Homo sapiens: one gene and its partner. The protein of the gene in region 1 purifies or fractionates together with the protein of each later gene. This does not show direct contact. Each region holds a gene or a part of one and is shown in the gene's direction. Other genes may lie near its edges.

Evidence for each region.
Region 2: the proteins of WDR4 (region 1) and XPNPEP1 purify together in Homo sapiens (affinity purification with mass spectrometry; 2 studies listed by BioGRID and IntAct, with this or other methods). This does not show direct contact.

What each region holds. Positions count from the first base shown.
Region 1 is NC_000021.9:42,851,340-42,856,354, reverse strand, and holds part of WDR4 (tRNA (guanine-N(7)-)-methyltransferase non-catalytic subunit WDR4), read left to right. Parts: intron 1-574; coding exon 575-673; intron 674-1,728; coding exon 1,729-1,793; intron 1,794-2,602; coding exon 2,603-2,786; intron 2,787-4,030; coding exon 4,031-4,100; intron 4,101-5,015. UniProt on the Homo sapiens protein: Non-catalytic component of the METTL1-WDR4 methyltransferase complex required for the formation of N(7)-methylguanine in a subset of RNA species, such as tRNAs, mRNAs and microRNAs (miRNAs).
Region 2 is NC_000010.11:109,884,498-109,889,605, reverse strand, and holds part of XPNPEP1 (xaa-Pro aminopeptidase 1), read left to right. Parts: intron 1-1,010; coding exon 1,011-1,103; intron 1,104-1,413; coding exon 1,414-1,557; intron 1,558-3,264; coding exon 3,265-3,360; intron 3,361-5,108. UniProt on the Homo sapiens protein: Metalloaminopeptidase that catalyzes the removal of a penultimate prolyl residue from the N-termini of peptides, such as Arg-Pro-Pro. Contributes to the degradation of bradykinin.

The sequences.
Region 1 (5,015 bases):
TTTCCATTGATGATGGTTTTAGAGCGTGGAGCCTCTTGGTTCCTGTGTCGGCTTCCTGAAGGGTTGTACCAGTTGTCGTGGGACGGTTGCTGATGGCCATGTCCTTCCTGTCATTCTTAGTGAAGTGGAGCAGTGGCCACGAGCTCATGAGCCCACACGTGTCTCCCCGTGGGAATGCATGATTGCTGAAGTGTCTGCGCAGACCTGTGTGCATGCCCGTGTCTATGCCCGGCCCGGGCACAGCAGATGTGGTCTGGCCTCCTGGCGGATGACAACCTGGCCATCTAGCGGCCTTGGCTTATTTTGCTAGGATCTGCCTCATTGGCTTTGTCATCTGCCTGGGCATATTGGCACTCGAGAAACAGGGAATCGGTCACCTTCCGTTCCCCACCGTTGTCCTTGATGATTTGCATGAGCGATTTACACAGTCAGAGCAGAGAGCCTTTAATTCCTGAGGGTGGGTGGCATGGCTGTCACGGAGTGGAACCCCGACCACACGCAGCTGTCCTCTCTGTCACCCTACCTGACGGAAGCCCCACAACCATGTGCTAACCTGTGTGTTTGGTTTGTGCAGGACGGCACCCTGAGGCTCTGGGAGTACAGGAGCGGCCGCCAGCTGCACTGCTGTCACCTGGCCAGTCTGCAGGAGCTGGTGGACCCCCAGGCCCCCCAGGTAGCTGCTTCTGTTCACTCCTGGGCGACTGAGTGCTTGTAGACACCGGCAGTCGCCTGACTTGAGTGGAAAAGTCACTTCGCCGTTGGAAACGTTTGCTCTCAATGCCAGACTTCCTCCTGTGTGAGGGAAATCTCGTATTTCAAATTCTGAAGGTGGCTCGTCATGTCAGTGGGAAATAATTTGTCTCCCTGTTGCATGCAAACAGTTAATGTACAGGAAGGCCTCTAATCCTGCTCTGAAGTGGAAGGAATGGAGGTGCTTGAGCATGCACCTTTGTGGGTCTGCCAGCCAGGTGGGGCAGGGGTGGGGCCAGGCCCACTCCAGCATTCTCCGGCCAGCTTGGAGCAATCTCATGACACCCTGAAAGCCCAGGCCTTGGCAAAGTTTCCCGCCAAACGGTCTGTTCCATTTCCTAGAGAACTGTGTGGTGTGGCCTCTGCCCCCTGCCAGGCAGCTGTGTAAGAGAGGACCAGGCCTTTTCCTTCATGCTTCACGTGGACTCAGGTTCCTGGAAGTTTCCTTCATTTAAAAAAAATTTTTTTTTTTTTTTTGAGATGGAGTCCCACTCTTGCCCAGGCTGGAGTGCAGTGGTGCTATCTCGACTCACAGCAACCTCCGCCTCAGGCTCCTGAGTAGCTGGGATTAAAGGCGTGAGCCACTGTGCACGGCCTCTTCTTCATTTTTAATATTTCCTCTGCCAGGAACTGTGGGAGCTCACAGGGCAGTTGTATGTGTAGCTCTCATCTCTTCCTTTCCCCTGTGTCCTCCGCTCCCTCTTCTCCTCACTGTCTGACCTATCTTGTTGGCTTTGGAGGCTGTCGCAGGCCCTGCAGGGAGTGCCAGAACCACTGGGGGGCTTTTGTCATCTGCTTGGGAAACAGGGAATCAGCTACCCTCCTTTCCCCACTGATTCCAGAATGTTCCAGTGCTGTTTCCTCTTCCTTGATATGTGGGGGCGTGAGCGTCCTTCGGTCTTGCTCTTGTTGGATCAGAGCGCCCGGCGTCGGGCCCCTGCAGGTGGCGTGAAGTTAATGGGCTTCTTCTCCTTTTAGAAGTTTGCCGCGTCCAGGATTGCATTCTGGTGCCAGGAGAACTGCGTGGCGCTCCTGTGCGACGGGTAAGCTGCGGCGGCACCTCTATGGCCTCCGGTTCTGCAGACCTGCAGGGGGAAGAGTTAGCGGGTTGGCCACTGGCCCACGTCCTCAATGAAGAGGTCCTGAACGGTGGTGGTATTGGTCTAGCACCTCCCTCTGAGAATGTCACTTTTGATGACTGCTGCTGCATGAGGGTGAGGGCTCCTCTCAGCCAGCGCTCTTCAACCTGACGTTGAACTCCCCTGGCGTAAAGAGCACCAGCAGCCTCTGCCTGGCCTTCTGAGATGACAGACTTTCCCCTGGGCCAGTCGTGGTGGCATCACCTCACTCCCGGCTCGGGGCTGGTCGGATGGGAACCCCCTGGGGTTGGCGGTGCTGACAAGGTGGGTTTAGGGGTGGAGTGCAGTTCTGCTGCTTCTTCCCGAGTGACTTGTGTGTGTCAGGAAAGGTATTCTATTTGGTGCTTTCGGCACTTTTCATCTTGTCCTTATGACAGCCTGGGGAGGTCTCTTAGCTCGTTCTGGAAGTACGCAGGTGTGAGAGGAGAGCTGCGCCTGAGCCCAGGGCCTGCGTCCTCCTGCCCTGCCTGCCTGTACCGTGCTGGTTAGCTATTGCTGCACCACGAGCCACTCCAGAGCTTAGGACTTAAAAAAGTGTACGTCACCCCATGGTTTCCCCGGCGCCGGCATTTGGGAGTGGCGCAGCTGGGGCTTTCAGCGTAGGCTCTCCTGAGGTGGCACCGGCGAGGGCTGCACCGTCTGGGGTGCTGGCTGCAGAGCGGAGCCCGTGGGCCTGCAGTCCTAGTAATCATGCTCTCTTTCTTCGTGGCAAGCACTCCTGTGGTCTACATCTTCCAGCTGGACGCCCGCAGACAGCAGTTGGTGTACAGGCAGCAGCTGGCGTTCCAGCACCAAGTGTGGGACGTGGCTTTCGAGGAGACCCAGGGGCTGTGGGTGCTCCAGGACTGCCAGGAAGCCCCCCTGGTGCTCTACAGGCCTGTGGGCGACCAGTGGCAGGTGAGACTCGGCACCTTCCAGATGTCCTATGCCCTGCCTTTCCATAAGCCTGGGGGTGTGGGGCGGCAGCTATGTTTTTTGGGTCCATGGGTAAGCCTCTTTCAACTCAGCCACTTCTGGGGCCCAGGGTCTGTGTCCTGAATGGCAGTGGCTGGGGCTTCCACCGTGGGTGAAGGGAGCCGGGTGCCAGGCCGGCGTGGCTGGCTTGTCCCATGTGGTGATGTCTGCAACAGTTCTTTTTTTGGGTGAGTGTGTGGCCCCCCACACCACACTTAGCGATGAAGTTGGCACTCAGTGTGGCAAGGGTGTGTGGGACTAACACTTGGAGGCTGGATTAGCACAGCCTCGGGCCTGGGGCACTGGCTGAGTCCTCAGGAGCATGTGGAGCCCCGGGTAGAGGAGGGGGCAAGGGCGGCAGGCTGAGCTGCTTTCCTCTGGGGAGACAGTGGGGTCTCTGGGCGAGGGCGGCGGGCCGAGCTGCTTCCTTGCTGGGGGACGGGGCGAACCCTGTACCTTGTCTGCATCGCTCCTGGTAACGGAGCAATGCCCCTGCCCGCCCTGCGTCTCACAGGGTTGCTGTGGAGTTGAGTGGAGTAGGTACCCATTTGCCAAAGCTCAGTTGAGCACTTTGGAAGCACTTTTTTTTTTTTTTTGAGACGGAGTTTTGCTCGTGTTGCCCAGGCTGGAGTACAATGGCGCTATCTCGGCTCACCGCGACCTCCGCCTCCCGGGTTCAAGTGATTCTCCTGCCTCAGCCTCCCGAGTAGCTGGGATTACAGGCATGCGCCACCACACCCGGCTAATTTTGTATTTTTAGTAGAGACGGGGTTTCTCCATGTTGGTCAGGCTGGTCTTGAACTCCCACCCTCAGGTGATCCGCCCGCCTTGGCCTCCCAAAGTGCTGGGATTACAGGTATGAGCCACTGCGCCTGACCTGGAAGCACTTTTAAGCCATCCAGTTCTTTTTACCTGAGAAGTGGCAGGCCACATGATGTCCCCAGTGGGTGCCTGTCGCACCTGCTGGCCCCTGAGGTTGATGAACTGCATGTGAAGAGCTTGCCCTGGCATCATGGGCCAGCTGCGGGGGCTGCCTCCCCAGGTCTCCACAGAAGGTGAATGGGGGTCCCCAGGCACCAGGAGGGGACCTCCCCTGCAAGCCTCTCTGGCCAGCATGTGTTGCGTCCTGGTGCTGGGTTTCCAGGCCTGCCTCTTTCTGATGAAGATTTCCTGTTTGTCGCCTGCAGTCTGTTCCTGAGAGCACCGTGTTAAAGAAAGTCTCTGGTGTTCTTCGTGGGAACTGGGCCATGCTGGAAGGTGAGAGCACGGGTGCAGGCTGCCCTTGGGGGTCACACCCAGCGCGGTCCCCAGAGAAAGCAGAAGCACACACTGTGACCTGCCCGGGGTACCTGGTGTGCAGATAAAGAGGGAGAGTAAGCGTGTGTCCCCATCCAGAAGGCGGGGCAGGGCAGGAGGTGGGTGACGCACAGCAGAAGAAGGAGCCCCCCATGGGAGTCAGGCTAACGAGAGCCACTTAGGAACCGGGGGCTCAGGGTCTGAGCACCTGCCTTCAGAGTTGGGCGTTGAAGGTCCCCAGGGCAGGGCTGGCAGCTGGTGGCTCCCAGAGGGAGCTGGTGCTGTGCTGCCTCATGCCTGGTCCATGGTGTTGAGGGAATTGATCCCACTGCAGTGGGCGTCAGTAAGTGCAGGGCCTCACTGGGAGGTTTAGTGGGGGTCTAGCCAGAGGCCCCGGGGGTCTTCAGGAGGCTGAGCAGGGGCAGGATGGTCACTGTCCTGACAGGAACACTCAGCTGAGGGGAGGGAATCTAGCCAGCAACTCCCGTGGCTGCGGCTGCAGGAAGGAGAGCAGCCAGGCTGAGGGAGGAGCTGGACGAACATTTTCTACCCTGCCTTCTGGGGACACGACACACTGTAGTTCTGGGTGCGTCGTTGTGCCAGCACCTTGCAGTCTTGGAGGTGATGGTGTCTGCAGGATGGATTAGCCCAGCATGGAATCCAGGTGCCTCATTCACGACAAGAAGTTGCTGCTCTGAAGTCTTGCAAAGCTAAACCCCACTGCAGTGAGCACTGAGGTTCCTTGGAGCTCTGGAGGGATTCACACTGAGGTCGGAGGAGTTTCCGCTGATTGGGGCCCAGCCGCCTTCTGCCAGGCTCCCCGAGTGGCGGCACGCTGGCTCTGCCTCTGAGGCTTCTCTCCCTCCTGCTTTGCTT
Region 2 (5,108 bases), on another chromosome or scaffold:
ACTATAGAAGTAATTTTAGTTCTATTCTGGAGGCTGATATAGTGTCCTATGACTAGCGTCTTAGAAACAGAAAGGGCTGTCTCATCCTGGGAGTTGGGGAACCCAGAGGCTCATGTTAAAGGCAACAGGATGGCCAGCACTTTGGGAGGCTGAGGTGGGAGGATCACTTGAGGCCAGGAGTTCAAGACCAACCTGGCTAACATGGTGAAACCCCGTCTTTACTAAAAATACAGAATTAACTGGGCATGGTAATTTTGAGCCTGTAATCCCAGCTACTTGGGAGGCTGAGGCAGGAGAATTGCTTGAATCCAGGTGGTGGAGGTTGCAGTGAGCTGAGATGGTGCCACCGCACTCTAGCCTGCATAACAGAGTGAGACTCTGTCTTCAGAAGTAAATAAATAAATAAAGACAACCGGACAGGTGCCTGTGTGCCTCTCTTAAAATCTTCGGAAAGATCTCTTTGCTGCCAAGACTTGTGCTTAGCCCTCTATTCAGAGGCTGGTTATGGGGCAGCGGCCTTCTCTTGGCCACCCTGCCCTTGCAGATGAGGGGCGGGCACTGGGAGCATGTTATCACCTTACCTGGTATGTGATATGTGGGAGTCTCCCAGTTCCCAGACTTCACCAAATCACTGCCCAAATTCTCATCAAGTGACCAGTAGTGGGGAAGTGACTGAACGCTGAGGAGACAATCTTTGTGGTGACGCCATGTGTGTACGTGGCAGTGATCCCCAAGATATTTTTACAAGGGGTCAAGTGAAAAATCATACTTTTTTCCCTTCTGTCTCACCCTTGTCTTATGTTTTTCATACACAAAAACTTACACTTCTCCCTCTCTGTAGCCTTCCAGGATTAAGGGAGGTTCAGATTTTCTAAGTCCTGTCAATCCACTTTAAAGAAGCTGCTTAATAAAGACCCTGCTATCATGATGTTAGAGAATTGTATCTTTCTGGTGGGATAATGAGCGTGGGCCCACTGGGAATTGTTTCTTATCATTTCTTCCCCCTGTAGGTCTGAAGGACACACCAACTCAGGAAGACTGGCTGGTGAGTGTGCTTCCTGAAGGATCCAGGGTTGGTGTGGACCCCTTGATCATTCCTACAGGTAAGTGAGCTTGGTCCCTTTCTGCTTGGGTAAGGAAGTGGCTTCTAGATTCCCCTCCATTCTCCTCATTTGCTTGTGGGGTGTGGAGCACTGGGGGGCTCAGCATGACTGATTTTATAGTAGAGGTCAGGGTGAAGAGAAGAGTTCCACTGGTGGTGAAGATGTGCTTTTACAGTTCCTCATCCTGCACACCCAGCTCTGGGCCATGGCAGGACCACCTTTCTGAAGGTTCTGGACTTTCAAGGCCCTGCTCCCTGCCCTGCTGCAATGGGCGTTCGGCTCATGGCTGGGCCACAATGTGTCTCCTCAGATTATTGGAAGAAAATGGCCAAAGTTCTGAGAAGTGCCGGCCATCACCTCATTCCTGTCAAGGAGAACCTCGTTGACAAAATCTGGACAGACCGTCCTGAGCGCCCTTGCAAGCCTCTCCTCACACTGGGCCTGGATTACACAGGTCAGAATCAATGGTTCTGCCCAGCAGGGCCCCTGCCATTGTCCCCCCACCTCTTGCTATTGTCTCCAGCCTCGTCCTCCGAATCCAAGTCGAGTTGGAGCTGACAGGAGGATTTTGCCCTACTCTGCCCCAGTGGGATATTTGAAGAAGCAGGAGCTTTGTTTGTTTCCACTGTTGCCACCTACTTGCCACTTAGTTTGGCTTTGGTTATTTTCGCAAAGCTCGTTTGGGTGGCTTTTTGGGTGCTGCTGAAAAGACTGAGTTTTTTTTATCCACTCAGCTGCTAACTGCCACTCGAACGTATTTGATATTGGAAATAGAGCATAGAGGTTTCTAGGTTCCATTTCCCTTCTTATGTCAGCATTTGTAGATTTACCTTCCTAGGCCTTTGTCCTCCATCTTGTACCTTCTGCTTTAGAGGCTTTGGGGTGTGGGTGTGTTTCCTTGGCCTGTGCGATAGTGATGGGTAAGCAGCATGTTCTCTGAACCATTGTGTGGATTTATGAAGCAGTGAGGGGGCAGAGAGAGAGGCCTGGAGGTGGGGCTGCAGGGGAGGGCGTCTTGCTGTAGAAACAGAGGTAGATGGGGGATGGCTGTGGAATGTAGGCAGATTGCCCAGAGGGGTCCTGGGAAGAAAGCGTGACAGCCTAGATTCTGGGCCAAGTTTTAAACAGCATTCCCGAACTGATCTTCAGTGCAGCCCTGGGTGTGGGGGCAGCCCCAGCCTGCTTTCTTGTGTGACATCCTCACCAGAGGGGTATTGCGGAATGGGGAGGATGGGTCCAGTGAGTGGCCCAGGGTCAGCTAAATATTTTCCATCAGCGTGGTTTGAAGTTTTTTTCACTAGAGCAGAAGCTCTGACTTGTTGCTTATAGGAGAGGGGAGAGCAAATGTTGCTGTTCAGTACACATTTGGGTGCCTACTATCTGCAGGATGCTGTGCGAGGTGCTGAGTGAATAAGACAGATGCCCACCCTGCTCACAGGTGGCTGTTCCCTGAGTTATGAATGCTGCCCTGGTAGGGTGGTTGTGGTGGCAATGGGGTGAGCTCCTCTAGCACCACGATTTCATCTTGCAGAGCAACAGAGAGGCCTTGGCAGTGTCTGAAAGGGCAAGTGTGATTTGGAAGTGGTAATCACAGTGAGTCAGACTACAGGGAATTCCTAGGTCTTAGCACTGAAAGGCAAGTCTTGCAGCCCCCAGGAACATCAAGTGGTGGGTGCTGTTCCCCTGACCCCTGAGACTGGGTGAGTTCCCTTTGCTGGGTAGTGTGTTGATATAGGTCCCTGTGTGTCCCCTGTTGCATCAGTATTTACAGTAGTGTGTTAATTGCTGGTTTAATTATCTGTCTTCCCTTCTATATTGTAAGCCCCATGAAGACAGGGACTGGGTCTGGCTCAGATCTGTAACCACAGTGACCAGCAGAGTGCCTGGCACGTATCTATGCCTGGCAGATCTAGATGTTACACAGGCATTTGTGGGATGCGTAAATGAATGAATTTTACTGGTGAGGCAATCAAGGCTCACGACAGTCAAGTGGCTTGGACACTTCTTGTATAGGGCTTGAATCCAGGCCTCCTGCCTGTTTAAGTAGCGTGCTCCTGTAAGAAATGGTGCTGATTAAAGATGTTTAGGGTAGGTTCTTTCACTGGGTTCCTACTGCTTTCTGGGACCAGGGCTGGAGTTAAAGCACATTTGTTTCTTGCAGGCATCTCCTGGAAGGACAAGGTTGCAGACCTTCGGTTGAAAATGGCTGAGAGGAACGTCATGTGGTTTGTGGTCACTGCCTTGGATGAGATTGCGTGTGAGTGCTCTGGTTTCGCTGTTTGGGCATGTTACCCGATCTCTCCTTTGGGTCTCTGGGTATCTGTGTGTTCATGCCATTCAACTTTCTGAGTGGCCAGGGAATAAGAAGAAGACTACGTCACCAAATGGGTATAGGAGATGCCAACTAGGATGAAGGAGAAAGAATTACAGGGAGCTGGGGAGGGGAGTGAGGCTTGTCCAGAGCAGTATTACAGCTGGGTGATGCCCACCTCTGGCCAGTCCCTCAGGACCATGGCACCTCTGAGGAAGGGCATTTCCTACAAATATTTTATGTCTGTCAGCCTCTGTAGGTGTAGAAGTGGGCTCATAGGAGAGGCCTTCTTTCTTTACACTTGTCCTGTGGTTTCCTAAGGTCTTTATAGTGAGAATGTTCTGGGAGCATTTCTACCTCAGAAAACTAGGAACTAAAAGTTCCTCCCCAAGCCCTTTGATGTAATAGTAGTTTCTCAGTCTTTGGACCTTAACCCACCTTCATGCAGTTGTTCAGCACCTTCTTTCATCTAAAACCTGACGGAATCTGGTTGAACCTTCCTGTCCTGTCTTCTGGTTTCTGAGTGGATTTGACCCAGGGCAACTGAGAAGAGGCACTGCTTTATCTTTTTGCCTTCTCACTAGAGAATGAGACCCTACTGCAGTGTCCTCTCTCTTCAGTCCCTGCATCTTCCATCCACAAAACATTGTCAAGTGTGTCAGTGACTTACATCCCTAATTAACTTAATGATCTCAACGTCAGAGAAAAACACCTGTAAAACTTTTCTCTCTCCCTGATTGTAACAAAAACACAATCCCATGATAGAAAACTTGGAAAATGCAGAGGAAGTAAAAAGAAGAAAAAAAAAATCACGTATAAATTCTGTTACTTAGAGATAATCAGTGTCAATATTCTATGCATATATCATTTTATAGCCTGATTTTTTCACTGTATCAGTACACTATAAGCATATACAAGCATAATTTTAAGTGAGTATTAAATACTCCATCATGTGGTTATACCATAATTTATTTAACTGTTTCCCTAAGGATGACCTTTGGGTTATTTGCAGTAATCCTGTAATTTATTATGATGCTACCATCAAAATCTTGGTTCATGAATCCATGTCTTAGTGTTTGATAATTTTCTTCCTATTTCTGGTTGGCTTTTAGGGCTTTTGACTCATCTTGCCCTTTGTCTGCCAGAAAGTTTGCACCTTTGTATTTGAATTTGTCTGTCTTGCCACACCTGAACACCAGGTACTGTCATTTTTAAAGAAGTGCTAGTATGATAGGTAAAAAATGGTGCCTCATCACTTTAAGAAGCCATTATTTTAAAATAGAGGTTATACTTTTAATGCCCAGGCGTTTTTTTGCTCTGATCCTCATGAGAACAAGTGACGGAAGCTGGAAGTCCTGGGACCAGAACTGTGCTCTCTCCTGGTCTGTCTAGTTCTCAGACGTTCAGCAACATCACTGTTACTGGCTGTCCGCAGGTCCCCCACCCAGTCGTGGTGCCAGAGCAGACCCATGGGTGGGCTGCAGGCTCTGATTTCATTGGTGAGCTGCAGCCTTGCTGACTCACTGCTTTTCTTTCCACCTCTGACAGGAAGCTCCGTCTCCATGGGGCTCACTGACCCTTACAGAGGAGGCTTGCCTGGCTTCCCTTGTGGGAGGGTCTCAGTTTTTCTACCCTAGGTCATCTGCCTCAGAAGGGAGAGAGTGCTCGTCTCCTTCCTTTTTATTTGGGAGCGC